Linked DNA regions of Homo sapiens. The protein of the gene in region 1 purifies or fractionates together with the protein of each later gene. This does not show direct contact. Each region holds a gene or a part of one and is shown in the gene's direction. Other genes may lie near its edges.

What was found.
Region 2: the proteins of MAB21L2 (region 1) and PBX1 purify together in Homo sapiens (affinity purification with mass spectrometry; 3 studies listed by BioGRID and IntAct, with this or other methods). This does not show direct contact.
Region 3: the proteins of MAB21L2 (region 1) and MEIS2 purify together in Homo sapiens (affinity purification with mass spectrometry; 4 studies listed by BioGRID and IntAct, with this or other methods). This does not show direct contact.

What each region holds. Positions count from the first base shown.
Region 1 is NC_000004.12:150,577,190-150,585,165, forward strand, and holds MAB21L2 (protein mab-21-like 2), read left to right. Parts: upstream 1-4,961; 5' UTR 4,962-5,840; coding exon 5,841-6,920; 3' UTR 6,921-7,504; downstream 7,505-7,976. UniProt on the Homo sapiens protein: Required for several aspects of embryonic development including normal development of the eye.
Region 2 is NC_000001.11:164,562,181-164,569,208, forward strand, and holds part of PBX1 (pre-B-cell leukemia transcription factor 1), read left to right. Parts: intron 1-1,057; coding exon 1,058-1,131; intron 1,132-7,028. UniProt on the Homo sapiens protein: Transcription factor which binds the DNA sequence 5'-TGATTGAT-3' as part of a heterodimer with HOX proteins such as HOXA1, HOXA5, HOXB7 and HOXB8. Binds to the DNA sequence 5'-TGATTGAC-3' in complex with a nuclear factor which is not a class I HOX protein.
Region 3 is NC_000015.10:37,097,525-37,105,552, reverse strand, and holds the start of MEIS2 (homeobox protein Meis2), read left to right. Parts: upstream 1-5,003; 5' UTR 5,004-6,086; coding exon 6,087-6,098; intron 6,099-6,123; exon of another isoform or gene 6,124-6,305; intron 6,306-6,446; exon of another isoform or gene 6,447-6,652; intron 6,653-6,856; exon of another isoform or gene 6,857-7,353; coding exon 7,354-7,586; intron 7,587-8,028. UniProt on the Homo sapiens protein: Involved in transcriptional regulation. Binds to HOX or PBX proteins to form dimers, or to a DNA-bound dimer of PBX and HOX proteins and thought to have a role in stabilization of the homeoprotein-DNA complex.

The sequences.
Region 1 (7,976 bases):
ATAATGTGGACAGTATAATCTTGATGACTGTCATTAACACATCTTACATATATTTAAATATAATTACTTCAATAAAATTTCATCAACTAGAATACACTAACAAATCATATCTGGGTTATTTACTTTTCTTTCTGTTTTTAGTGAAATAATTTTTAAATTCAGAGAACTTAATAGTGTTTTATTTCCTCATTTACAATTTGACCAAAAATAAAAATCAATGTTCATTTTTTTAAAAAAAAAAAGCATTTTCATAAGTATGTAGAATGATTAAGTATATAAGAACTAAAAATGTAGCACCCACATAGATGTTTCAAAGTTAGAATTTAGAGGATAAGACTATATACCAGTAAACACGTGGTCCTTTGTTTTCCAAAAAGTATAAATCCTCCAGAAATGCTTTCTTTTCTTAAGTCAATAATCTGATTATTTTTTGAAAGCTTCTAAAATATTTCCTGGAAAATAAGATCATGTATTCTAAAATTTGTTTACTCTTTAGTAAAGATTATTGAGATACAATATATTATTTTTACAGATAATAAAATAATAGATACCTTTTAAGTCTCGTTAACATGATAAAGTAACAAATGCACTGACGTTAACTCAGTAAATACATTTTTAAGTAAAGATCAGCAAAAAATAAAACAGTTTAAGAATTTTGTATTCTCTGGAAACATAAACAGGATTATAACTGTCAGATTACAGAAGCACTGACTTCAGCCATTAGTTTGGTTTGGCTCCTGAGAAACACAACATGAACTACTGCATCATTTCTTTTCAAATCCATACATTCCCTGCAGCCGTTCAAGCTTCATCAGCAGTGCAGGAATGTATAAAAATGACAGGCAAAGGGCATTAGGTTTTTTTACTTCCATACTGTTTTCCTATAAATGGAAGACAGGATTCTTTCTCAAAGCACTTAAGCTCAAGCTCAGTCAATGCTGAAGGAAAAATACAACTGAATTCTCTATGCAAGAAAGTATCACAATTGGATTATTTACTACTTTTCAAGGACATGTTGATAAATCTAATACTGTATTATTATCTTAGAATAAAACATTGTAAGGTTAGCATTCTAGCTTAATTACCCATTATTCTTCAATTAGAAATATTTTCACTTTTTAAAGTACTCTGTCAACTCATCACCTTATTTTAACACCAAGTATTCAGTTTTGCTTCTAATTTTAATTATAAAAATTTCCTTAAAATATGCCAATTTTTTTTGAAAATATATTTGTATAAATAGTTAATTTTTTATTTCCAAGTTTCTGTACTCATAAAGGTTTCGGTGAAATAGGAAATTCCATTAATAATTAAAAGTTTATTTAACCATGATAAGTAAAAATAGGATGTAATGAGTAATCTGGTTATTTGACTGGACCTTAAACATTCACATTGCTATAAAACTAGTACCGTAATTACTACAACCTGACTCAATTTTTTGAAGAAACTGGGAAATTTTCAGACTAAAGTTTTAAACATCCTCATATTTTAGTTTATAGTAACTAAAAACATGCCCACTTCAGTACTATCACCTACATTCTTTATGTTCCTAATGTAATGATGCAAGAGGTAAAGCCTAGAGAAGTCTGAAGGTTACGGACTACCTGATATCCAAAACAAAAAATTCAGATCACACCCTGAATGTCCTCCTTCCCTTTTTAGGAATGTCCTGCAGCTAGCCCAGCACCACAGCTCTGGGCTGAAGCATGCCAATGTTGGCACTGCCTAAGCCAAACAAACAAGATGTTTAACAGTCAAATAAAATGTCCTGCAGCCTCCCTAATGAATTTGTCAAGGACCATCAGATTTCGCACCCCCTCCTTTGCCTCATTAACTCAAGTATGATGAGACGGATTATAACAAGAGAATACAGATGAATCGGTCTGAAGACTTGAAGTGGCTTTTAGCCTCTAGAGTTTCTTTCTCTCACTTGGTCTCCTTTAATAGAATATAGTATCTCCTGCAGAAGGAGCTGCCAGTTCGTTTTAATACACCATCAAGGAGCTGCTGATGGACTTCTATACTAACATACATAAAAGCAGAGGTGACAGGGGCTCTTCAATTACAGCCTCCTCGGATACCGTTTCCCCCTTCAATTATTCAACCAGAGGAAGAGAGGACCGCAAAGGCGCAGCTGAAGCTGCTCTTAGAGCAGAGGCAGCCAGAGTGAGTTGGGGTGGGGGAGGGGGGAGAAAGAGAACCAGCAAGAGGGAGCATTATTTGCTGGAAGTGTTTAAGTTTATTGCTCGAATGATGTTTCTAATTAGTACCACGGCCATAAATTAAAGTCGCCTTTGTTTAACTGATTTATTATTTACTAGAGCATCTACCTAAGACAGGGTAAATTGGTAATGAATTGTTTTTAAATCAAAACATTTGTAACGTTTTATCATCCTTCCCTCTGTATGTAAAAGTGGAGAAGCGTAGGGGCAAGGATGCGAGAAAACTTAGCCGAGCTTGACAGAGCCGCCAGTGGAGGTGCAGCGGAGTGTCCGGCGAGTGGTGGCGCGAAGGTCCGCTCGGCCTGGGACGCCCCACCCGAGAGAAGAGGAGAAGGCGCAGGACTTGCGGCGCGGCGGCGGAGCCATGCGAACCAACTCCGCCACCCCTGAGGCTGTTTGCAAACACTCACTCTCGGGAGCGTCGCGGGCCGGGCCATTCGCGAACCAGACGCAACGACGAAGCGACCACCTCGAGAGTGGGGCGGGAAAGCTCCGCACCCTCTATCCCCGCCACCAGTCTCCGCCCAGTAACTGCCCCCGGAGAAGCAACCACGGAGCCCCTCCCGGCCAGTCGCGCTCTCCCGGCAGCGCAGTGCCCTCCGGCCCAGGCAGTTCCCAGAGCGCCGGCAAGGCCTCCCGGGTTAGAGCCGGGCTCCCACAGGCGCGAACTCCGAGGGCGCGAGGTCCCCTAGATCCTTAGGCGGCGAGGCGTTCCGGGACGCACGCGGCCTCCCCGGAGAAGGCTGGAGGTCAAGCAGCCCAAGTCTCTGCCACTCCAGAGAAGTTAACTAAAGCTCTGGAGTCCAAGAGTCGCGCGGACACTTAATTCTGACTCTTCTTCCTAATCGCGGGAAGACAAACCCTAAGCAACAAATCCGAGATAGTTTTTTTTTAAGCAAATATTCCTTAGAAAGGGACTTATGGCAACGAGAGAGGAAGGGTGACAAACTGCCTGTGGTCCGCACCAGGTATGTAAGAAAGAACCAAGAGGCCCAATTGTCTGATACCAAGTAGATAGAAAGAAATTAACTTCCCTATGCAATTCAATTCAGGTTCACCCGGCCGGACTTTAAGAGGGTAAGTCAAGCCCTCCCAAGGGGTTTTGAAAAAGCCGAACTACCAGGTTTCTAAAACGAAGTCTTCACCCAAATGGACGCATAGATTTTTATTTTTATCGCATAACCCAGGGCTGGAATATAACCTCCCAAATCAAACTAAAAATAATCACATCTACCTGAAATACGTTAAAAAGATTCAGAATCCAGACATCTTAGGTTCATACATAAACCCTCAGTATCAAGCAAATCAGAAACAATGTTCTAGCTTTTTTTTTCACCCAAAAGTATGGAAAGGCTACAGTGGGTACAACTCGTTTAGGATAATACATATACTAAAAGCACATGCATGCCTTTCATTGAAATGCCTAGGGAGGAGTGAAGCCATCTGTGTAATCAATAACAGGATAGTTATAGATTTTTGTGGCAGTGAAGTCTTTTAAAAGCAAGAGTCAATTATGAAAATAAAATCATTTTACAAATGAAACTCTGTACCTGTACCCCCTAAGAATACATTCACAATTAGATTTACAACAGTAAGATTTTAAGAAAACTTTAGGTTTACATTTACTTGCCTTGTTTTTCATTAAGTTTGAAGCAATTTTAGTAGCTTATTTTAAAAGTATATCCTACTAAGTTCTACGACATGTAAGTTTGCACCATTTCTCACAACTTAGATATTTTCTCTCTCGTAACTAGTTAATTCTTGTAACGATAAAATAATGGTATTAAATACATGTGAATCTTAATTATGAAATAATTATCAAACAAGGTGCTTGGACTAGTTTTTGCCCTGCCCTGTTTTTAAACAGCATATCGAAATTACTAAAAAGAGATTTATAAACCCTCACCTTATATCCACTCCAACCCTCACTGGTGCACATATACAGCAACTGCTCTGATTCTTGGCAACAATGGGAGGGGAGGGGAAGAGAAAGGAGGATGACTTTAAAGGAGGAAAAAACCTGGAAAAATTAGGTCCTTTCCCAGATTCCCCTTTCGCTTCCCATTTGCCTTCAAGCCAAAGTAATTTTGTTACAGTTTGCACCTTCTACTACACAATGTTGATAGAATCATTTAAAAAAAAAAAAAGTGAACCTTTCTGAACCATTGCTACTCTCCCTCGCGTTATTCCAGCCATCTCCAGGAGAGTCCCTTCTATATAAACTCTTTTTCTTCTTTGCTACTGATAAGAGAGGAGGATAAAGAGGAACGGCTGTAAAATGTGTGCAAGCATTTGACTCCCATTATCTCCTCCTATTTTCTTACTTCTCTCTTTACCCTGTTTCTTTATCAAGTGCAGTGGTGGCTGCTACCGTTCGCCAAGCGTGCCTGTCTTCTCTCTCGGATTGGCTAAAGCACTGACAGCTCGGATAGCGATTGTAGGAACTGAAGCTCCACCCCCTCATGATGGCCCTGGGACCATTCATAAACTAAATAACTCCAGGAAACAGCGAGGGAGAGAGAGAAAGAAAGAGAGAGGGAGAGAGAGAGACAGAGAGAGTTAGAGGAAAGAAGAGAGAGCGAGCACGAGGAAGGGGGGCGGGGGAGAGAAGCAGGGGGAGAGCGGGGCGAGAAAGAGGTCGGAGGGGAGAGGAGGGGGAGAGACGACTCAGAAAGTGGAATCTGTAAAAGCAAGCTAGAGGAGAAGAAGGAAAACCCTGAATCGTTATAACTACACCCCAGATGCAACGCAAGCAACGACTTCGTCACACTAAAACGGATTTTGTGAGGGCCAAAAGTATAAATTACGAAGCAGAAATGATTATCAAACAACTTCCAGCGGTTTGCACCTAAAGAAACACAAGGAGAACCCACTACAAACAAACAAACCCAGTCCAAACAACGCCTCCAGTAGGAAAAGAGGAAAACTGCGATAACACGACCCCCCGAGAAGAGACGAGACCAACACGCTGAGACTGTGGGGCGTCAGCAAACCTCCAAGTGCACGGCGGACTGAGTTGTACTTCGCAGCTCTCTGGACATTAATTACCTCCTGCACCTTCCATTTGGGGGAGGGTGAGGAAGAAGGCACTCACCTACACTGAGCGAAGAAGTCCTATCAGCGTGGAAGAGAAGTTTAAGAATGAACCACTGAATGTTTCGCTTTTATTTTTAAATTTACTTTGGCACTTAAAAAACCTCATTTCCAGATTTCTGGACAATCTCGGCTGCAGACATCTAAGCCTAACCTTTTGGTATCCTGAGTTTTTTCCCTCTCCTTCTCCTTCCTCACGCCCACCCCGCTTCTCTCGCACACGGTCATCTTTACATATCAAGAGAAAGCAAAAAGGTTCCAAGAGGTACTTTTCTTTTTAGAAAATCACCTTTTCTCCCCTAATTCTTCTGCAGAAGAAAAGAGGTTTCGAAAGAGGGAAAAGGAAAAAACAAGCCGGCTACGGTATCAGCCGGTCAGCCCAGGTGGAAAACGAGAGTGAAAGTAGGGCTTAACGGGGAGCGCACCGCCTCTTTCGAAAGCCGCTGGGCCACCACCAGTGCGTGAGCCTTGGATCCCTCAACGTATTGCGAGACGCCGGTGTATAGCCCGGACCTGTGCCCCAACATGATCGCCGCTCAGGCCAAGCTGGTTTACCAGCTCAATAAGTACTACACTGAGCGCTGTCAGGCGCGCAAGGCGGCCATCGCCAAAACCATCCGAGAGGTCTGTAAGGTGGTCTCGGACGTGCTCAAGGAAGTGGAGGTGCAGGAGCCTCGCTTCATCAGCTCCTTGAGCGAGATCGATGCCCGCTACGAGGGGCTCGAGGTCATTTCGCCCACCGAATTTGAGGTGGTGCTCTACCTAAACCAGATGGGCGTCTTCAACTTCGTGGACGACGGCTCGCTGCCCGGCTGCGCAGTGCTCAAACTGAGCGATGGGCGGAAGCGGAGCATGTCTCTCTGGGTCGAGTTCATCACGGCGTCGGGCTATCTCTCAGCGCGTAAGATCCGCTCGCGTTTCCAGACGCTGGTGGCCCAGGCGGTGGACAAGTGCAGCTATCGGGATGTGGTCAAGATGATCGCGGACACCAGCGAGGTCAAGTTGCGCATCAGGGAGCGCTATGTGGTGCAAATCACTCCGGCGTTCAAGTGCACCGGGATCTGGCCTCGCAGCGCGGCACAGTGGCCTATGCCCCACATCCCTTGGCCCGGCCCCAATCGGGTGGCCGAGGTCAAGGCCGAAGGGTTCAACTTGCTCTCGAAGGAGTGCTACTCGCTGACCGGCAAGCAGAGCTCGGCAGAGAGCGACGCCTGGGTGCTACAGTTCGGGGAGGCGGAGAACCGCCTGCTGATGGGCGGCTGCCGAAACAAGTGCCTCTCAGTGCTGAAGACTCTGCGGGACCGCCACCTGGAGCTACCCGGCCAGCCGCTCAACAACTACCACATGAAGACGCTGCTGCTGTACGAGTGCGAGAAACACCCACGAGAAACGGACTGGGACGAGTCGTGCCTGGGCGACCGGCTCAACGGCATCCTGCTGCAGCTCATCTCCTGCCTGCAGTGCCGCCGCTGCCCTCACTACTTTCTGCCCAACCTCGACCTCTTTCAGGGCAAGCCCCATTCGGCCCTGGAGAGCGCTGCCAAGCAGACCTGGAGGTTGGCCAGGGAAATTCTCACCAATCCCAAAAGCCTGGACAAACTATAGGGTGCTGGGGACTGCTTGAAAAGCGACACAAACGGGCGTGCTCTCTCAGACACACAACTCTGCTATAAACAGCAGAAACTCTGGACACAAACTTTTATGTAAGTCACCTGAAATAGGAATCCGGCAGAAGACCTTCATTAATTAAGAAGCAAACAAAAAGAGAGCAACCCAACCAAAACAAATCACATTCTTGCACAAAAGTGATCGTTTTCTTCCAAACAATGTGAATTTAAAAGGTCACACAAAAGAAGCAATCGGGCTCCGCCACCACAAAATGAAACCCAAGGTACATTTTCAAATCAATGTATAGTAGTTCCCCCCCCTTTTCCTTCTTTCCCCCTATCCTTTTTCTCTCCACCCCATCCCCCCCCCCATTTCGTTTTGCTTTTGGTTGCCTGAATGTTGTCACCAAGTGAAAAAATTATTTAACTATATGTAAAATTTCTCTTTTAAAAAAAAGTTTTACTGATGTTAAACGTTCTCAGTGCCAATGTCAGACTGTGCTCCTCCCTCTCCTGAACCTCTACCCTCACCCTGAGCTGTCTTGTTGAAAACAGTAATAAAAACATTACTTTACATTGTAATTGACTGTTTGTGGATTGTTCTTAAGTGAAGGCAGGTGAGATCACAGTTTATAATTTCCAATGTAAAGATGTGACGAGGAATCAAATGCAAGAAGCTTCCACTTGAACTGATTTGCAAAATTTTAAATACAGTACATTTTGTAGAATTGACTGTATAAGTTCCGACCCAAATCCTTAGAAAATAGAAAACACTAATTTTACTCAACTATAATATATATTTGTTCTGTAGATGTTAAGATTAAAAGTAACATCTACTTCACGCTTGGGAAAAAAGTATGAAAGAAAATATTTTGATCCTAATTTTTAAAATAGAAAAAACTTTTTCACATTAAAAATTAAGAGATGTGCTTTCTTATGCCATAATTTCAAAAAATCCAATCTGAATCCGATATACAAAGGAAATATTTATGGATTTTTCTGAATAGTTAACAAAGTCAGTTGATACTTTTCCTTCAACCGTTTGTCCTCTTCA
Region 2 (7,028 bases), on another chromosome or scaffold:
ACAGTACATAGGGCATGTTTCTGATCTCTGTTCTTCATGAGGATGTGTCTATTTTTTAACTTTCAAAGGGATTAAAAAAGAATTGCATGTGTTTTGAGTGCCAGAACTTTCCATTTATCTTTACACATTAATTTTAGTTAGTAGACAGAATTCACTTAACTAATAGCTGATATGATCAGTATTTTGTTTCCAAAACAGTATCATTCTGCTAAGTGGTTCCATAATAAAATAGAAGGAAAGGTATTGTTTTGTTCCTCAAGTGCATTCAGAATACACACACACACACACACACACACACACACACACACACACACCAGGTAAATCACTAATCTAAAAGACAAAATTGCATTTATTTTTCCCCCAATGGGTGCAAGGTCCTAATTGTAAATAATTGAATTTCAACACCTGCAAATAAGCAGTGTGTGCACAGAAGCATAATGTGAACACAGAGAAATGAATTTATTCCCCATATGGGTATGTTTGCCCCCTGGCAATGCATTTCCATACTCTTTAACTTGGGGACTGAAATGTTATAAATTGACAGTTCTACTCAGAAGACCTTTCAAGCATCTTGTGTTTATGAGAATACAGGGGCATCTGCGGAATGAATTCGAACACATGGATGAATTAAATTTGAAAACACACAGACCGAGAGGCAGACAGTTCCTAGGCTGTGGTCGTTGCATGGATTTTACAAAACTGTTAACCTACACCTTTGGCTTTGCTGTGTTCATTGTCCTGGGAAGAATTGTGGGTTTAAGAATTACTCTTTGATTAAACTACTTAAAAAAAAAAAAAAACCCTTTCCCTAAATGGGCATAATTTAGGTTAGTTCTGTTCTGTAGTTAAATCCCTACCCTCTCCCTGCTAATTAACATTATTTCTTTTTCTATGGCGGGACTCTGTATATTAAGTCATGAAAACAACTGAAGCATGCCACAGAGTTAGGGTTGGGTATATAATTTTGTCTAAATGTTCAAATGTTTTCACCCTGTGCATTATCGGCAGTTTGATCTTGAGAGTCCACCTAAGCTATCATGTTGTTTCTTTCTTGCAGAAAACATGCTTTAAACTGCCACAGAATGAAGCCTGCCTTGTTTAATGTGTTGTGTGAAATCAAAGAAAAAACAGGTAGGAATGAGATTCCAACATTTTAGCATTTTCTTTGGCCAATTAAATCACTTAACCAGCAGTCACAAATCTATTATTTAAATATTAAAATTTCAGAATACAAGTACTATGAAGGTTGACCTCATATTCGAATAGGAAGTCCTAGCCCTGCTTTCCTTAAAAAAAAGAATCAAGTTTCTTTGACAGTTATTATCAAGCACTACTGGTTAATTTTCCAGAACTCTATTTCCAGCCTTTTTGAGATTGGGGCTAAAATATAGATTCTGAAAGGAAATTTATAGACTGATGTATCTTTGGGGCAAAAATATGAAAGTAAAAGTTCATTTTTTTAAGGAATATATTTTGGCCCATTTTTAAAACCCTAATTTTTTTGGAGTTGGGTGTGGGGGTGCTAAACTGTTGAAAGTTTCCTTTCCTTTTTTTCTTGTAATTACACAAAGCAGCAGACTAGAGGTTCTCAACAGAGAGTGTTGTCAAATACCTTTGTGGAATGCGCTATACAACATTAGGTTATCGGTATTTGAGTGGCCTGTGATTTTATTGCAGGGAGAATCGTTGGGTTTAGGAGAGTATAACGCCATGAGATAATTCACTCTGTTGTTTTTCTACTTTCTAGACCTCGTTTCGTGGACTAACACACTTATAACACATCCCAGGAGGGCATTTAAATTTTAAAGCAACAATTAAAAAATAGCAGTCATCAATCAGAGGTGTTCTTAAACAACAGATGCTCTGGGAAGGACATTTAGCGACATCCCCTTGTTTATTTTAATCCTTAATTTTCCAAAGTGGGTAAAGCTCTCCCTTGTAAGAAGAAAGATTTGAGAAGGCAATCTGAAACCAGGGAATAAAGATGAGGGACAAGGGGTGGTTATATAAAGCGGGAGCTTCTGCTGGGCTCTGACTTACCCGCTCGCTTTAGAGCAGTGCAAAGTACCTGACATCCTATTTATTTATTTATTTTTTACAACAAGGAGTGTAACAGTCAATAATTCATATCTAAACCATATAAGCAAGGGCATGACATGAATGAAAGTGACAATAAATATGATTGCATGCTTGGTTGATATACATTGATAGTTACACATAAAAAATGGGCGGGGGGAGAGGGCACACAGGGTGGCTTTCTTTTTGAGAGCTCTCTGTGTTTTTCTTTTAAAAAAATAGTTTCAAGATGTGACTGTTGAATGAATATGTAATTACTTGGGTCTTGAAATGCGTGTAAAATTAGTACGCAGCTCCTTTGTTGAATGTTATTTGTGTTGTGCATAACATTCTAGACAAAGCACCTGAGAAGTGATGTTCAGACCTCTAAGTCTTCCAGGTTGCCTTGCCAAAGCTTAACCTTATTGCAAACCTGTTAATTGCATTATTTTAGCTGTGAGACAACTTTTAAAAGATTTATGGACTGTGCATTCAAATATCAAAAGAGTTTTTTCCAGTTTGTCACACTTTTTAGTTTCTTTTTTCTATTAGCCCAGAGTAGGAAACTTAAGTGTGTGTGTATATATATATTTATATATATTTTTTTATCTTCTCTCTTTTTTCTTCTTTGATCTCTGATGCTTATTTACTTTGAGTGTTTGGTTTGTTGAGATTTGTTTCTAACCAAGTATGAGTTCCTGCTGATCTTGTTTCATGAAATGTAGAATCAAAATATAAAAGCATATGTGATAATATGGACTAAAGAGAGTCTATTTTTGAAGATACTTTATCAGATTTTTATTGAAAGGAAGCCTGTCAGGGCACTTAAATGTACATTGTGGCCAAAGTGCTTAATTCTAGTTTCCTAATTAAAACCTACTGAGGCAGTAGATTAAAGTGGGTGGGTGTGAATAGAGATCCGGTTCAGGTGAGGGTTAAAGAGTTCGCTCCTTGTTCATGTTGGCTCAAGTATAATGATAGGAAGTAAAGTAGTCAGTCGTATTGGTCAAAGTAACATTCTAAAAGTTTTGTATTTTAAATTTTGTGTCAATACATTTAATGTTTAGAGACTTAAAAAAATCTAAATTAAGGTTTTTTGTGTTGTCTCTAGAATAACATATTTAAAAAAACAATTTACAAATAATGTAATTGAAAGTGATAAGAGTCATTGCCCCCTGTGTTAAGGGACACACACACACACACACACACACACACACAAGTCTTGGATTAAGAGGGCACCCCTGGGTGAAAGTAGGGGAAAAAAAAGGCTTACCTCCCTCTTAGTCTTCAACTTGTGTGTTGGAAGGATTGAAGGGAAGGCAAAAACCTCTCCTGGAATGTTGAGTGTTGTGTTAAAGGTAGGAGTCAACTGTGGTCTGCTGAAAAGAACCCTTTGATTCTAAAGCACGATTACTTGGCTACTCAAGACCCTGGAACCTTCAATCTTTTTGCCAGCATATCTTTCATGCAGTTGATGGGTCGGAGGAACAAAGTGTCTGTAAAGTTGCAGGAGCTTTTTTTTTTTTTTCCCCCTCTTCTTCTTGATACAGAGCTGGTGAAAACATCGCTTGAGTGATCAGTTCACATACATTCCTTTATTGTTTGGGGACTTTTTCTATTGTTACTTTCAAGCCTTTTTGCATTAAATGAGTATTTTTGAGTTTCCATCTCAAGCATTATAATGCTTATAATAATAATAGAGGTTACTTGATTTAGGGTGGGCTTTGTTTGTTTGTATTCTAACACGAAGTTCATACATTTGGCTCACCTAGGCAGAACTCTTGAGAGGAACTTGGTAATTGCATTGATTTGTTATTTTTGCTTTTTTGCATTTGTTAATGATTTTATAGTTGGAAGACTTAGAAATAGATACAAAAACTGGCTAAGATGTATTACCAACCTTTTGGAACTTTAAAAATACATACACACATGCACGTAACACCCCAAAGTAGAAGGTGCCATCTGAATTACAATTGATTGATGGGTGTTTAAGTCAGAAATTACTGTGGGGATATTTAAAAAACAAAACAAAACAAAAGAACCCATGCATCTTCTTGCTTCAGAATGTGGGTAGTTTTTATTCTGATACATTTTCGCTTTTAAAAAAATAAATGCTAAGAAGAAGTGCCAGCAAAATGCTCGGGTGGCAATTCTCAAAGAGCAGCTAAAAAACCCTGTCAAGACCTATAGCAATGTATATTTCACATGTGGCTTTTATCTGCTCGCTCATTCTAGGAATACAGAGACAATTAGAGTTTTGGATCATTTAATATAACACTTTCTTTTGGATTTTTAAGATCCATTCCTTGTCTTCTGGCATATTAGTAATAGGCTAAGTTTTGCATATGTGTATATATGGTGGTAATGGGGTTGGTGGGATAGAAGAAAAGGAGAAAAAGTCAAGCATATTACATTTCTTTAAAAAAACCTTGAATATATTTTTAAACATTTCCTGATGTTTTTTATTCCTGTGTCAAAATCACGCAAGTTTAAAAATTAGGAAAACACGAAAAATATTGAATGCCATTTACTAAGGAGAATATTTATAGATAGCAATGAATAGCTGCAATTGTTGTGAATAGTTTTTAATTTTAGAACATAATAGCTATATATGGCACTTTTCAGCCAATTTTCCTCTGTGCATTGTCTGCATCAAAGTTAACGCAAATCAAATCTTTGGAGGAGGTTAAAAAAATTTATTTTTTGCTCCTTAACACCCTTTTGTTCTCTCTCTTTCCTTTTCTCTCTGTGTTCAATTAACACCCCCATCACAGAACTGTAGTGTGTGTGTGTTTTTTTAATTCTACTACTTTATTTCACTTTTGACACCCTCCCTTATTATTCTCGCCTGCCACTTCTTTTTAATATAGCAATTACATTATGGGACTTCTCCTCTCCTCTCCCCTTTAAAGCATTAGAGAATAATTTGTGTGTCTATGTATATGTGTGTGTGTATGTTTGCATATGTAGGTGGAGGGGCGGTGGGTTATGGAAGGAAGCTAGAGATTGCGGGAAGAGAATTCTGATGGTATTAGGCCTTGAGCAAAATAGGAGTAAAATAACTTTAAACCATTTAGAAGCAGCCTCTGATCAGATTCCTTTTGGGGTTGAAGTGGTAGGAGTCATTTTTGTAGAAGGTCATCGATAGCCAGCAAATGCAAAAACTTTTCTTGCTGATGAGAAAATTCAAGAATTTGGTTCATTTTTTTTTTTTCTCCCTCCTGGTAAAGATGCAGAGGAAAGAAAAGGGGATCAAATGAAAGGAACTTACAAATCAGTTTTACCTGATGCTATCTTTCAGGTACAGTGTGTTAAGGCAGAAGTAATGTGGTTAGACCCTATATTATTTATTTATTATAATGTGGATATAAGCCGTAGACCTACAACAATATAACTCTGACAGACATAATATAAGAAGAACTTGTAATGAGAAATGACTTTTCTTTTTAGTCACTTTTGTGTATTCCATTTTTAGTCTACTACTAGAATTAGAACAATTCTGGCTTTTGAGAAGTGCAAAGAGCAATTTGGTCAAAGCTGCCAGAATGAGAATTTGGGAAATTTTGGTGTCATTTTTTTCTAACAATAGGAGTGTCTGTGAGGATTGGACATGAGAGCGATTTAGGTTATACTGAAGGATCTGGAAGGGGATTTATAAGCGGGGAAACATAGAACCTTGTGAACTAAGAGCTGTGGGGCATTGAGCTGGGCCGGGTGTGGGTGGGTTCTGTACAGTAGGCTGCACTGTTGGCTGAGAAGGGGGCATTACCTGCCTGTGTGTTTAGTTCACTGCTGGTGCCAGACCTATTCACATGGTTTTGCCCCTGCATTCTGTTGACATCCATGAACTTTTTGTTGTGGTTGTTGGCAAAATTATAAAAATACCCCCAAACGAGCAAATAAACCAAAACCTAGATGTTGCACATAATTTAAATTGGAAGACATTTTCATTTGTAAAGCATGACCCTGACTTCTTTTGTGTCATAGGCATATCTTAGGAAAGCTTATTCTTCAATTTGGTTTCAAATCTCTTTTAGATGGATGATACTATGTTTGAACTTGGTGAAGCGAATCTAAATATTCTTTTTATTGCTTTTCCTTTAAAAAAAAAGTTTACCAAAGCACCACATGATAGAGACAGTGTCCTAGGTCCAGCTCCAAACAGCTCTTATTCATTCTCTTATGACCCTAAGAAGCACCCATTCATTTTCATTGCCATATTAACCTGATTTGGAGGAATATAATAATTTTGGTTCCATTGCCCTTTACCTGCAATGGTGTGGTAAGATTTAAGGAATGCAATAATTGATAAATAAGTAGAGAATTCATGAGTTGTTTGTGAAGTGCTTTGAGTTCCTGTGGGTTATGTAAATAATTAAGGCACTGTATTTTCTATAATAAATTATCTCAGGATTCATATCTTATTTCACAGGATATCACTGCATTTCACTCTTTCAGGCTAAAAAAAATGTACGTCTACTGGTCTTTAAGTAATGGGGTAATCGATCGTCGCTCATGAGGAAAGTTCTCTGGTTGTATCTTTGCCCCATCTGCATCTCAAAGATGGCACTTCTCGGAACTTAGCAGAGTGATCCCCAGAGGGGAAAAAAGGTGCAGGAATAGATTGTCATAAGATTATAACACCTATCCCCCATGATGGCAGAATAAGGTCAATAGTGTCTTACCCGAAGGTCTTCTTACCTCTAACAGCTCTCTTTCAATCTCTCAATTATTGGTGGAAATTGAGATTGCAATGGGTGGAAAATTCATCCTTTTTGGTTTAGGTTGTAGTTTCAACTGCATCTTCTACTGAAACTTTTGTCATTAAGTAGGTATTGGGGTGGGTATACCTCACACTCTGTGCTAGTTCTGGACCTTCTACTAAGTAGTTATAAGACCATAGAAAAGTTGCTTAAATAATTTTATGATAAACTATAATAGTAGTGGTTAAGGACCTGGTCTTTAAAGCCAGA
Region 3 (8,028 bases), on another chromosome or scaffold:
ATCAGTAAAGAGAACTTCCCTCCCGGAATAAAAATTAACCTTACAGAGTTTTTAAAGATATGCTTAATCCAAAATATTCCAAATCAAAACATTAAATAAAGTTACAGATAAGATTAAGGTTGGACTTATTTGCTTCTCTAGCAAGGCGTCAATTGTTCTAACTGTTGTAAGAAGACAAAAAGGATTTAAACCTGGCGATTTTAATACACAGATTAACACTTTGGACTTCTCAGTTCTGAGGAATTTGAAGTTATCTGTGCTAAGAAGCTATAACTTTCAAGGAAAAGAAAAAGAAACAGCTACACAAGCTCCTTAAGGAGTGTGGGCAAATTCACCTAGAGTCTGGGTTCATAAATTCTTGGTTCAAATTAAACACTCCCCATAAAGCCAATGCCCTTCAAATTAAGGGACTATAGTGGAATTCAATTATTCCTTTTAAATCTTAAATGTTACCTATAATAGCATTCCATGTTGGCTCAAAAAAAGAAAATGAAAAATAGAAAAGTAGCAGTTTTCAGAACTCTTGGGGCTGCTTCAATAAGAAAGAGGTGATTAAAAACAGACTCTTAAATTTGAGAGGCCCGATTCCCCCTTCCACTGGTCCCCACCCGCTTGGTCCCCTCCTTTTCACCTCTTTTTTATGCAGTACCCCCACCCCCACTCCAGAGCTAAGTAGCTGATTTGGGATTCTGAAGAAATAGGTTTCACCATCCATATTTGTTCTGGGGCACTTGTAAAATGCGATTTGTAGAGGGTCTTTAGCCTTCTGATTGTCTTTGAATTGTTTTTACTGAAACAGATCTTTTGCAGTTAATGAGTCCCCACGCAGCTGGACAGCTCCTCTCGGACACTGAGAACTCTAACCCCAAAATGACCCCAATTTGACACCGCAAGATGAAATTTTACCGCCTGTTAAAACCATTTCCAGCCTGGGCAGAAGGAGCTGACTGTTGACGGAGGTGTGTGCCACCTCCTGCGACCCCCATTTCGTGCCTGTCTCCCGGGCCTGCCCCACCTACTTTCCTTTCACCCCAAATATGGGAGAGCAGATGAGCCTGGAAGCCTGGGTGGGAGTGCCAACGCTGACAATGGGGCATTAGCAAAATGCCACCAGGATGGAAATCAGTAAGTGCGGGTACCCTACTCCTTTGGAATCGCTTCTATTGGACTGGAAAATTGGGGATGAGGGAAACCAGGAAATTCTTATATGTTAGATGAGCCTTTTTCAGCTCTATTAATAAAACACCCGCAAGTTGCTGATTAAAGGTAATAGTGTTTTGAATTCAGCAGACTGACCAAGAACCAATACCTTGAATCGACTCCAACTTGATCTCCTCATGTGTAATCCACTACACTAGGACTGCTATTTTAAACTAACAGTTTCATAAGTGACATGCAACTAGATCAGTAAGATCTCTTTCGTTCAAAGAAATTCTGGGTTCTCCCCTGAGACAACTGGCAAATTTTAAAAAGACATAGATTTCCTCCAGTAGGAATGCACTTTCAACACTCTCACACTTTTTTAACTAAAAGTCGTTGAAGTTAAATATGACTTTTTGACAATATCTTAAAATGTCATATTTCTCTCTCCCTCCTACACCTAACCATATTGTTCCTGTTGTTTGCTTTAATGTATTCAATAAAATGCAAAAGAAGTTAAGAATATGAAAGAGAGAGACAGAGAAAGGCGTTAAGGTTAAAAATGCCTTCTGCATCTGATAAAAACACATGAAAATAAAGTTTAAACTTTTCTTTTTTTGTAAAACCCAAGATTATCACCAGATAATCAACTCATTATTAGCTTACAATTGTTTGAAAACATAGAAATCGGCCGGGTGCGATGGCTCACGCCTGTAATTCGAGCACTTTGAGAGGCCGCGGCGGGTGGATCAGGAGGTCAGGAGTTCGAGACCAGCCTGGCCAATATGGTGAAACCCCCGTCTCTATTAAAGACACAAAAAATTAGCCGGGCGTGGTGGCGCGCCCCTGTAATCCCAGCTACTCAAGAGGCTGAGGCAGGAGAATCGCTTGAACCCGGGAGGCGGAGGTTGCAGTGAGCCGAGATCGCGCCATTGCACTCCAGCCTGGGCGACAAAGCGAGACTCCGTCTCAAAAAAAAAGAAAAAAAAAGAAAAGAAAAGAAAAAAAGAAAAAGAAGATAAAGAAAGAAAAGAAAATATAGAAATCATCAATCTGTCTGAGTTGTTTTTACTCACACTGCAAGGGAAGGAATATTTTTCTAAAAATGCGACTTAAGTTTTTCTAAATGAAAGCTATAGAGATGCTAACTCACTTTACAGTATCACTATAAAAACAGAAAAAGAAACAGAAGGTAGCAATGTTGAATGTTTAAACCCTGCAAGGCAGAGGTTCCGCATGAAGTTGATCTTTACAAAAAAAGGTTTATCAAGGACACTGAGGAATTTCTTTTAAAAAGAAACGTAACTGGCACTTATTGAACAAGACATTTAAAACAACAATAATCCTATTGGCGACGATAAACTTAAATTCTTAAATTGAATTTAAGAATAATTAGAAGAGTAAAAACTGAGTACAAATTTCTCAGCCAGCGGCGCTGCACCGGGAACTTGGACCCACCAACATCAACAGCTTTGCAAAGTCGAAAACGCTCCGCAGCGTTTTTGTTTTTTTCCCCTCCCCACCCCGCCGCACTCTCAAACCTCCCGGTCCCGGCTAAACTGAATTCGCGTAACTGTCGATTGAAATAAAATTCTGGAGACCAACTTTTTCTTTTCTCTTTCATCTTCTTTTCTTTTTTACTCACCTTCTCTTAAATGTCGACGAGCAACTCAGCAACAAATAAGGATACTTTTAATCTTGGAGTTCTTCTAGGAAAAAAAAGAGGACGTGGAGGAAGTACCCTCCCCCCAACCTTCAGATTTCCTACCCGTCGGCTCTAGCAGGCTTGAAGCCCGGCAAAAAAGAGTGGCTGAAAACCTGGGCTACACTCTCCTCCCTGAAGCTCCGTGAGTCTGGCCGTCCCTGCTCGGGCCATTGGGCAGAAACCTCGCGGCCCGCAGCCCCTCTCCCTGGCGTCGCGCTATCCGCGCCTCTGCCAGCCCCTTCGCACTATCTTTCTTTATATGTGAGGGCCGATTTCCCGCAGACATCATTGTTATGATGGCTCATTTAATCAAACTGTTTAATTGCTCTGGTAATCACTATCATCATCACAGGTGCTCAATCATTCATCATTTTTGGAGGGCTTTATTGACCTCCGGAGTTCATTCCTCAGCCCTATTAAAACGAGGCCAAATTTCTCCGACTCCGCTTGGAGTCTCTGCAGGCTGCAATCTTAGCCTAGTTTCTGTTGCTCGAAAGCTTACAGTGAAGCAGGGAACATGGAACGGGGGCCAAAAAAAAGAGCCCTCCCACCCGCCCTCCTCCCCGCTCTCTCTCGCTCTCTCTCTCTCTCTCTCACACACAACACACACACAGAGTACTTTATTCTCTCTAATCAACCTCCCCCATCCCACCCTCCCTCCGCGGGAAAGTCGGTTAGACGCGGCTCGCGGAAGACACTACTCTCCACTTCTCAGAATGGGTTCAAAGTTGGGGAGGGATGCGGCTGTTGGAGAACAACAGTCCGCTTTCCACTCTCTGGGCCAGGGACTGGGAGGGCGAGAGCGAGAAGTTGGGGAGAGGACGCGCTTCCAGCGCCTGTCCGCCCGGCCGCGCCACAAGGGGCCGAGGGGCATGGGGGCTGCTGGGCGGCAAGGCTTGCGCGGGGTGACCGTGGCTCCGCCCCCAACTCCGGGCTCGTAGTGATTGACGCGCGGCCGCCGGGAAACCAGCCGCGCAGAGGTGAAGCCTGGTGCAGCTCGGGCCAGGGAGGACAGGGCACCGGCCACAACTAGTTTCCACCCAAACGGTGTGGGGTAGTTCCCTTCGTTTCCTTTTCCTTTTTGGAAAAGTTCTTTCGGAGCTGGCCCCATCTCCCTGACCCCGCGAAATCGCCCCTGTGTAATTAACACAGCCATTAGCAGGCGTTACCGCGGCCCGCCGCTGCGCCTCGGGCGACCACAACAAAGCTGGGCTGTGAGCGCCGGCCACTCCTCCTCGCCCGGCAACTTCTTTCTCCCCCACTCTCTCCGTCTTTTCCTCCTGTGCTTCCCAGCTCTGAGTGAGATCCACTTTGGAGACGCACACTAGTCGCGCGCGCGCACGGGCGCGCGGGCGCGCGCGCGCACACACACACACACACACACACACACACACACACACACACGCCTTTGGCTACATCGGACCCAGATGACTGCCTCCTCACTTCCTCCCTCCCGATTCCGCCGCGGCCCCCAAAGACTCTCGGGGTGGCCCCTTGTCCGCACCGCTTGGAGGGAGTGTGCTCTGAGTTAAGCTGGTCTCTTCTGGTCCTGGAAAAAAATGAGTATTGACAAGGTTGCTGGATCTGCGCAGAAAAGAAAGTGCCACTTAATAAAAAATTTAGCCCGGCAGTGGTACCGTCTGCAGAGCTTGCTGCCCTTGGACGTTAGCAGGAAGCCTTCGGGGTGCTGTAATCGGCGGGCAGAGGAGAGGGAGGCCGCGGAATTAAAAGGAACAAAAGCTAGAGCGCCATGCCAAACGTCCCCGGCAAGACCCAGTTAGGCAGGAGCCGGGAGTGATGGGAAAATGAACTAGAAGTAAGTTTTTTTTTTTTTTTAAATGAAAAGATCTGAGGCGGTACCGTACTTTCCCTGTGGTTTTCTGCAGTTTTCCTCTCTGCGCTCTCCCTGTCCTCTTCTCTCTCCCCCTCTCCCTCTCTCCCTGTTCGCGCGCGCGCGCGCGCAACACACACGCGCGCACGCACACACATACACACACACTCACACACACAGACACACTCTCCTTTTCCTCCCCCCCGCCGTCCCCCATCCCCGTGGAGGAGCAGGCTTGCTGATTTGCTCGGGTCCGCCCGGCTCGAGCCTCCCCTCCCCCTCCCGCCCCCCCGCCTCCCCCACCCCCCCAGCCGGGGCTGTCCGATCGCACTCGTTGCATATCAGAGGCTCGGCGCGGCGCGCTCCTCCTCGCTCCCGCTCCCCACTCCCGGGATGTGTCTCCGCCGTACGACGGGCTATGGCCACCACGACTTCCGGGTTCCGTCATTTCGTTCTCCCGCCGCCGACCCGCGCCGCCAAACTGAGGCTCTTCAATAAGCCAGGCAGCAGCCAACCTGCCAACACCTACTGACACTCACTCATCTCCCAGAGAGAGAAAGAGAGCGAGAGAGAGCGAGCGCGAGAGAGCGAGCGCGAGTGAGAGCGAGCGAGCGAGCGAGAAAGAGAGAGAGGGAGAGACAAAATACCTACCAGGAAAGGGGGGGAGGAAGTCCAATTTTTGCAAACTATTCATTTTTTTTTCTTGATTTTTCTCACTGCTTTCTTTGAACAATACTTTAAAGAGAGAGGATCGTATTATAGATACCGCGGGGGCAAAGCTAAAAAAGGGGGGAGGGGGGAGGAAAAAATTCAAGAAGCAGAAACCCCTCGCGGAGTTTTACTGGAAGAAAAAAACGGGTCTGAAAGATTCCTCCTCTTCATCATCATCAACCATCATTCATTCACTACCTTGACATTCCGGGCTTTGATTGACAGCTGGAGTGGCAAAAAGCCATGAAACACGACAGTTCGGTTACATGTGGGCTGCTGACGGGCCGCTCGTAACCTTCAGTTCGGGGGCTTGACAATTTTTTTCTTCTTTTTCTTCTTTTTCTTTTCTTTCTTTTTTTTTCCAACTGAGGGGAAGAGAAGAGAAAGAGGGGGAAAGGAGGACCGAAGAGGAGGAGGAGGGGAGGGGGGAGGAGGAGGAGGTGGAGGAGGAGGAGGAAGATCAGGAGGAGGAGGAAGAAGAGGAAAAAAGAGAAAAAGAAGAAATATCACAGAAAAAAAAATTCTTCGTTGTCTAGACTGGGCTTTTTTTCCCCCCTAAAAAATAGCATATTGGAGAATTGGGAGAAGTCTCTTTGGTTTGGAAAAAAAAAAAAGGAATCTTCAGCCTAGATCACTTTCTTATCCGGACTGGGATATTAAATATACGACACATCCAGGAGTTTATTGGAGCGCAGACTGATGGCGCAAAGGGTAGGTTTAAATCTCCAACACTTACCTAGATATAAATCCTCTCCTAAGAGGGGCCTGTCCCGATGCCTCCTCTCCCTTCAACGCTTCTGCTGCTGCTCGCTGCTTGATGATGGCGGCCAGTATTTTAAAAAATAGCAAAATTATTCATCGGCTTCTTTCCCTCCCGTGCCTCTGCGTGTGTGCGAGTGTGTGTGCGTGCGTGTGTGCGTGTCTGGGCGCGCGTGTTCCAGCGCTGTGCGAGCGGGCGGGCGGCGAGTGCGTGTGAGTGGTGTGTGTGTGTGCGTGTGCAATCGTTACACGCTTTCGCCTCGCTCCAGCTTTTACCCCAGCAGCGCGATTCCCCCGGTTCTCCTGCTGCCGCTGCTGCGCCGCTGCCGCCGTGGCTCGCGCGGCTCGGGGCGGGCACGGGCTGCGTAGGAGCCGCCGCCGGGGCCGCCGCTGGGGCCGCGCTGCCGCAGCCGCTGCGCCGCCGCCTAGACTACTAGCCTGGGCTGCTTGTTTTGTCTCTGAAATTGACAAGGACGCAGGGAATCCGCTGCTAAATAATGTTTCTGGTAACTTTCACGTTATTCGCCCCCCCACCCTCCGCTCCCTGCCCCCGGGGAGGCACTGGCCCTAGTCTTTCCTAGTCCTCGGCGTTCTCGTGCTGATTATTAGCGTTTTTCTTCTCTTTATTTTGTTTCATTTCGCCTTTTGATTTATTGGATCCTCAGAGGAGGCGAAGGGGGGTTAGGGGTGGGATCCGGGGCTTCCTCCTCACACTAACTCCACTTCTCCCTCCGTTGGCTCGCTACGGTTCTGTTGCCTCCGGCGGGAGCGGGGCCTCCCGGCGCCCCCTCAAATCCCCGGCCTCGCCGCCTCCTCTTCCTTCTCTAAACGTTGCTCTTGGTTCATGCTTTTTCATTTTTAAATTTAATAACATTTTTTCCTCACAACTTTTAACTCCGTTGTTTTGGCTGGTTTGGTTTCTGTGTGCTCAACTTGTGCTCGGTACTTTTCTCCTTTCTGACTTTGTTTTTATTTTTATTTTCTCTCTCTCTCTCTCTCTCTCTCTCTCTCTCTCTCTCTCTCTCTCCCCCTCTCCTCCTTTTCCTCCTCCTCCTCTCTTCTCTCTTACCTCCCTCCCTCTCTCTCATCTTTATCCCTTCCTCTCTTTTCTGTTCGCCCTCTTCTCCCTGCTCTTTTTCCCTTTCCACCCCCCTCCTCTGTTCTCCCTCACCTCCTGCGCCCCCTCCCCCTTCCCGGGTTCTGACAGTACGATGAGCTGCCCCATTACGGCGGGATGGACGGAGTAGGGGTTCCCGCTTCCATGTACGGAGACCCTCACGCGCCGCGGCCGATCCCCCCGGTTCACCACCTGAACCACGGGCCGCCGCTCCACGCCACACAGCACTACGGCGCGCACGCCCCGCACCCCAATGTCATGCCGGCCAGTATGGGATCCGCTGTCAACGACGCCTTGAAGCGGGACAAGGACGCGATCTATGGGTAAACTGACCCCCCGGACCCAGCTTACTGTGTGTGAGTGTGAGAGTGTGTGTTTGTCTCTGTGGGGGTGGGAAGGTGGACGACTAAGTGGGGAGTTACTTCTGTATGGTGGGGGGCGGGCGCCGCTTGCCTTAGGAAGGGACCGTGGAGGGGGCCTGCTCTTCTGCCCCTGGAGTCAAAGCCCCGAAGAACTAGCCTCTTTCGCTCTCACAGCCCGACCACTCCAGACCCCACAGCCTGGAGTGACTGAGTCCCCAGAATCTTGCCGGGGCCTTCTCCCCGAGGACAGGATTCCTGGCCAAAGGACGCAGGACTGCTCGTTTCAGGCTCCCTAACAGAGGCCTTGACGAAGGAGAAAGTTTCCTGCCGATGAGAAGCAACTTTGGGTTTTTTTATTTTTTACTTTTTTTTCTTCTGTTTCCTACTGAGGGTCTGGGAGTCA